Homo sapiens: one gene and its partner. The protein of the gene in region 2 purifies or fractionates together with the protein of the main gene of each other region. This does not show direct contact. Each region holds a gene or a part of one and is shown on either strand. Other genes may lie near its edges.

What was found.
Region 1: the proteins of GSTO2 (region 2) and WDR1 fractionate together in Homo sapiens (co-fractionation; one large-scale study listed by BioGRID). This does not show direct contact.

What each region holds. Positions count from the first base shown.
Region 1 is NC_000004.12:10,078,590-10,082,407, forward strand, and holds part of WDR1 (WD repeat-containing protein 1), read right to left. Parts: intron 2,856-3,818; coding exon 2,768-2,855; intron 413-2,767; coding exon 302-412; intron 104-301; exon of another isoform or gene 22-103; intron 1-21.
Region 2 is NC_000010.11:104,302,631-104,305,582, reverse strand, and holds the end of GSTO2 (glutathione S-transferase omega-2), read right to left. Parts: 3' UTR 633-2,952; downstream 1-632. UniProt on the Homo sapiens protein: Exhibits glutathione-dependent thiol transferase activity. Has high dehydroascorbate reductase activity and may contribute to the recycling of ascorbic acid. Participates in the biotransformation of inorganic arsenic and reduces monomethylarsonic acid (MMA).

The DNA of each region.
Region 1 (3,818 bases), on a different chromosome or scaffold from region 2:
TGGCTCTGAGGCACAGCTGTGCCCTCCTCGGCACTCCCTCTACCTCACTGTCCACAGTCTTGTGGGCACCCGGGCAGTGAGGTGGGGGAAGTGCCGAGGAGGGGAGGGGAAGGCTCCAGCCCTGGGTGGCAGGAGATGGCGTGGCTGGGCCCCAGAGCAGGTCCCACGCCCCGACTGCCCCCATCCTTCCCCTGACCCCTCGCCTTCCCTGAGACAGCCCCGGTACTCACACAGCTCACACTGTCCCCAAATCACCCAGATACCAAGGACAGAGAGCACGGGGGAGAGGAAAGCGACTTACCACACCCCCAATTGCCACCGTGTCCCCGCCGGGGTGCACTGCCACAACTTCGGGCTCGTAGCCGGGGTTGTCGATGCTGAAGCACTTCCTCTGATCCTTCAGCAGGACAATCTGTGGCACACACAGGCAGCTGGTCAGGCGGTCCAGCCCTTCGGGACAAAACCCTCAGTGGTAGGAGGGGCGCGTCCCTGTCGGGGCTCACTGGAGCTGGGTTTGGCTCCATACCCAACCTCTTTGCAGGGCCACCTGGGGCTCTGAGCCACACCACCTGGACTCATGTCCCGTTTGACAGTTGCTCTAGCCAGTCAGGTGGGGCAGGAAACACAACTAACTGTGACCATTACTGTCATCACTACATTACTTCCAAGGCAGTCACCACAGCACCACCTCTTGGAAAGTCACTTGGCCTCGATGGGAATCAACGTTCAGGGTAAGAAAGGTACTAACAACAGTAAACAAAAACAGCGACAGCCCCTAGGCACGTGCCAGCGCTCTGCTGTGAGTGTTCCAGCCCCACAAGGCAGGGATCGGGTTCCCCGTTTCAGAGAAGAAAATGGGGTACGGTGCTTATGCTGCACGCCCAAGGCTCCAGTTCCCACAGGCTGAGCCGGGACTCGCCCAGAATCCAAGCCTCGGCACCCGCACTGGGCCTTTGCCTCTGGTACATGCAGCAGAGGCTCTGCAGCGGGGGCCTTCCTTCCATCTCCCTTCCTTGTCAATTCTTCCGGTTCTAACTTACTCAACTGCTCCCAGACAGTGGCCTTCATCTCTGAGTTTTGCCTTTATCCCAGTGTGCCCCTACCCAAGCCACCAGCTGTCATGAGGGAAGGCAGCCTCTGCCCCTACCGTCTGGGCTTCTGTTTCTGCGTGGATTGTGGGTGGATCGCGATGAATGGTAGCAGCACCCTGACTAAAACCTACTACTGAAGAGGCACCTCTGTCATCTGCCCGGCTCTGGAGGTGGCCTTACCTACTCACAGGTGAAGAATGAGGGCCTAAGCATTTGCCTGAAGCTTCGTCCGACATGAGACTTGAACCTGGTTGTTTCCTGATCTAAAATCCCAGGCCCCTCCTAGCACCCTCCTAACTCTTTGACTGGTGACAGGGAGCTCTGCAGAAAATTCTGACCCAGAGCAGGGGTTCCAGATGCCCTGGGAGGATCAGGTAACAGCAGATCACAGAGAAATGCCACATGAGGAGGTGCAGAGACCTGGAGCCTGTCCCCTGCACACCACAACCCTACCGGGGTCCTTTCTAACCTCCTGGGCAGCAGGCGCCAGCTGGGCCAGTCTGAACATCCTCTCAGCCTCAGGGGAAAGGGTGGCCTATGATGACCACAACTTTACAGATGAGGAAACCTGGGTCTGGAGACACAGGGCACGCTGCCCTAGGCCTCATCCCCTCACCCACAAAGCCCCATGTGCAGACCCCTTGGCTGGGAAGAGCCCTGCTGTGCAGAGATAGGCCACCTGCCAGCCTTCTAGAACTCCGCTTTGTAGCGTTTCCCCCAGGCCCCGAGGCGCTCCATGTGTGGATTCCCTTTGCACCTCCCCACCCCCACTGGCTGTCCAGGCTGTTTGCAATAATTACTTGGCAGGGATTTCTTATTATCTAGGACACAGAGAAATCCACTGTCCCTAACGCAATTAAGTTCACAAGGCAAAGGAGGGCCAGAGGGTGCTGAAAGCAGCTTTCTTTAGCAGGGCTCGCCACTCGTGCCAACAGGTGCCCCTTGACTTCCCCGGTCTACATGCCAGCAAGCCTAGGCCCGCCAACAGATAATATCTTCTGCAGGGCAGAATTCTGTATAAAGTGGGTCAGGCTTGGGTCTCAGGTGGCTTTGGTCCAGATATTCCAAAGGTGTGCAGGTGGCCCCACTGTCTGGGGTTAGAAGCCAGGCCGGGAAGTCAGGTGCCACCCTTCTGCATGTGGGAAAGTACCAAGCTGCTCTAGGCCTCAGCCTCCTCATCTGTAAGAGGAACCAAGATGGTGTAAGGAGACTTACATGTACTTCCTCATAATCACCTGGATCTGTGAGTGCTGGGGATGGGAAACTAAGGCTCAGAGAGGGTGAGGTAAATGCCGGAGGTCACACAGCTACAATGCAGCAGGGCTGGGATGTGAACAGGAGCAAAGGCAGGCCCACCCCACAGGGTATCTCATAGACTTTACAGGCTGACAGGCAGGCAGCGTGGTCTGAGGCTTAGAGACAAATCCCAGCTCTGCCCTCCGACCAGCTGCGGCCTTGGACAACCAATTTATCCATTCCGTGCCTCCATTTCTTCATCTGTACAACTGATGTGATGGTGGTGAGGATTAAATATGTGAGATCCCTTAGTGCAGTGCAAATGAGCACTCAACCAAAACACTGGCTAGAGCAACTGTCAAACGGGACATGAGTCAAATTCAGCAAGCAGGCACCACACAGCTGCAGGCTCCCACCCAAACACTAAGCCAGGTCCCTACCTGTCCAATGCACACGACCACGGCGTATCCCCCGGGGCCGACGGCTACGCACTTTGGCTGAACGTCCAGTTTCACAACTCCTTGTCCGCTGTTAGAGAGAAAGGAAGCACATTACTTCGACAATGCAGCAGCTCAGGGTAGGTATGCATACATATTTACTGTTAAACCACAGTTTTGCTCCTTAGAAGGCAATTCTATTGCCACCTATACTGGAGAGACTTGCTAAAATATGGGATGGTAGCGAAAAAACGATCCATGACTCTGGTGCAAAGAGATTATAAGTCATAATGGGGGCCCGGGGAGGGGTGGGGGGGGGGGAAGGAGGGGCGGGAGGCGGTGAAAGGCGTTGATTATGCTCCTATTTATCTGTGGTAAGCCCTCATTACACCCAGATGTGGCTTTTGTCCCCCTGTCTGTTGGCTAAAGACTGGAGTTTACTGAGCACAGACAGAATTGAGCTCTGCTCCCCAAAATGGATGGGTAACTTTTAAGAATCCGTTACCTTTAATGGGTGAAAATCATGTTATTTTTAGCCTTGGCCAATGCTATCAAAACTTGTTCTAGAAAGACTCATACACACAAACTTCTTGAAAACTGAGATAATCAAGGAAATTTCTGTGTCACTCGGCCAAGTGTGGCATCCCCAAAGGCTCTGCAGCAAGGTCACCAGGCCAAGGCTGGCTCTGTAAGGGCCTTGCCTTGGGTTATCTGGCCCAGGGAAGACCCTTTTATGGGACGTGTTAAGAGTGGGGTCACCACAGGGCAGTAGAAAGAGGACCAGGGCCCAGATGCCTGGGCTCTGGGGCCGCTTCTGCCACTCATCGGGAGGCCCAATTTACCTACAGATGCCCAGTCTGCCAGGCAGGCAGGGCCTGTGTTACCTACAAGGACGGCACACCTGCTAGGAGTTGCGTGCTGCACCCTGTGCCAGGCTCCCATCAACAGGCCCCAGGAGTCCCCATCTCCCAGGCAACACGACTTAGGCAGGACTACCGGGTGACAAAGGGGTCTACACAAGAAATGTAGGGCCAGAGGAGGGGTCAGACCTGGG
Region 2 (2,952 bases):
CAGCATGGTACTGGTGTGCTTTAGTTTTCCATTCAGCATCCAAGCTGATTGGTAACTGGGCAGGCCTGCAGGCATTTCAAATCCCTCACATTTTAACCCTTGGAAAGAGATAACCTGCTCCAAGAGGAGACAAAGATTCTCTGCTTGACCAAACTTTAGTCAGGCTCCTGAACCTCCTCCTAGGTTCATCTGTGCGTGTCCTTGTAAAATTGTTTTAGCAAAGAACCCTGCTAAGTTAGTTTGGCAAAAGAACTCCCCCACCTCAGTATCAGATCATCCTTGATATCTGATCAAGTTCCTTGTCCTCCGCCAGCCCTCTGGTGATGTCTGATCATCCTGGCCTGTCTTCAGCAAGAATCCTGTTAGGTCAGTTTAGCTAGAATCCTCCTTATCCCTGACGTTTCCTCCGAGTGATTTTCAATCCACTGACCTCTGCTCTACTTCTGGGCTATAAATACCCACTTGTTCGTCTTGTACTCAGAGTTGAGCCCAATCTCCCTCCCCAACTGCAGAAGTCTCATTGCAGCGGCCCCGATACCTACCGTGATGGTTATGAGGAAGTCTTCCTTCACATGCTTTAAACAAGTGTCAGTGAATGATTTTTTTCTTTAACAGAGTAGCGAGATTCTGAGTATTCTTCAGAAACACAGGAGAGAAGATTTATTTTACATCATCAACATTGCAAGATTTCAGAATGCACAGTATTAAACTTGGCCTTGGGGTGAGAGGGAGGAGGACGGGGAGGGATAAAATTGCAGCTTTCAAGGGATCACAGGTTGAGATTAAACCTGCACACAGGAAACAACCAGAAAACAACTCCAAACCATGAATCAAGCCATGTGCAACGTAGGACATCTAGTTCCACAAAGTGATGGGGGGATGAGCACAGGGTTCAAGTCTGATCATTGGCAGAAGCCTAGTCATAATAGGGTTGCCTGCCATTCACTGAGTTTCACCCAGCTGGTACTAAGCCCTTGCATAGATGAGACCATCATTATTCAACAGCCCAATGAAATAGGTACTTAGCCGTCCCATTTTACAGATAAGAAACTGAGGCTAATAGAGGTGTAGCAACTTACTCAAGAAAGTTAAGTTGCAAAGTCGGAATTTGATCCCAGTGCTAACCTTGAAGCCCTGTTTGTAACCCCTATGGCACGCCACTTCTCTTTACATAAAGAAGAATTTTGATCTGAACTTTGCAAGAGAAAAGACTGGTTGGAAAAAAAAACAGAGGGCTGCTCTGAGGAAGAATAGTATGTAGAGGAAATGGCATTTTCAAAGGCTCAAGAGCGCTAACAGGCCAGATGAGAGAAAAATGTTTGAAAAGATCAAATGTTCAGCCTTCCAGGCACTCAAAGAAGAAGATAAATGAAAATGGGTCTCCCAGGTGGGCACAGTGTTTGGTGTGTGTGTGTGGTGGGGGATGGGAACTGGAGACTACTCATTGAGAACTGCACTGGGCTGGATATTTGGTTATTTGTGAAGACTTCAGAAAACAAACTAAGCTAGGCTGATATAAACCACAGGGCAGTCAAGCTTGCTTCTCAACTCAGAGTAACCCAGTCTCCCCTCCATCAAGGCCAATGACTCTGACAAAGGAAACATGGGTAAGGAGACCTGAAGGTGAGAAACCAAGAAACATAACACCTGCCCCTGCCACCCCTACCACCACCAAAGCTCCAAGAAACAATGTGGGAGCCACATGCAGGCAGTTTCTGCAGCACTGGAGGGATTGCTCTAGCTTGTACTTTATGATTTAGATTAAATCTACTTTAATACTCAGAGTCATTCTGTCCTCCTAGGCCTCTGAGTCTGTGATGGGAGGGGCTGCCACAAAGGTCTCTGAAATGCCTTCAAGGCCTTTTCCCCATTTTCTTGGCCATTAGCACTTGGCTCCTTTTTACTTATGCAAATTTCTGCAGCCTGCTTGAATTCCTTCCCTGAAAACGGGCTCTTCTTTTCTACCACATAGCTGGCTGCAAATTCTCCAAACTTTTACGCTCTGCTTCCCCTGTAAATATAAGTTCCAACTTAACATAATTTCTTTGCTCACAAATATGAGCATAGGTTGTTGAAAGCAGCCAGGGCGCATCTTGAATGCTTTGCTGCTTAGAAATTTTTTCTGCCAGATACCCTAAAATCATCACTCTCAAGTTCAAACTTCCACAGGTCCCTAGGCCAGGAGCACAATGCAGCCAAGTTCTTTGCTAAAGCATAACAAAAGTGACCTTTGCTCCAGTTCCCAGTAAGTTCCTCATTTCCATCACCTCCTCAGCCTGGCCTTCACTGTCCATATCACTACTGGCATTTTGGTCACAACCATACAACCAGTCTCTAGAAAATTCTAAACTTTCCCTAAAGAAAACAGGTTTACAAAAACTGCATGTTCTCACTTATAAGTGGGAGCTAAATCATGAGAACACATGGACATGTGGAGGGTAACAATACACACTGAGGCCTATCAGAGGGTGCAGGGTGGGAGGAGGGAGAGGATCAGGAAAAATAACTAATGGATACTAGACTTAATATCTAGGTGATGAAATAATCTGCATAACAAACCCCATGACGCATGTTTACCTATGGAACGAACCTGCACATCCTGCACATGTACCCCTGAACTTAAAATAAAAGTGTTTTTAAAAAGAGGTTTAATTGGCTCATGGTTCTGCAGGCTGTATGAGAAGTGTAGTAGATTCTGCTTCTGGAGAGCCCTCAGGAAGCTTCCTCTCATGGCAAAAAGCAAAGGGGGAGCGAGGCATCTCCCATGGTGGGAGCTGGCGCAAGAGGGGTCAGGGAGATGCTGCACACTTTTAAACAACCAGAACTCATGAGAACTCACTCACTATCATGAGAACAGCACCAAGAGAATGGTGCTAAACCATTCATGAGAAATCTACCCCCATGATCCAATCACCTCCCACCAGCATTGGGGATTACATTTCAACACGAAAT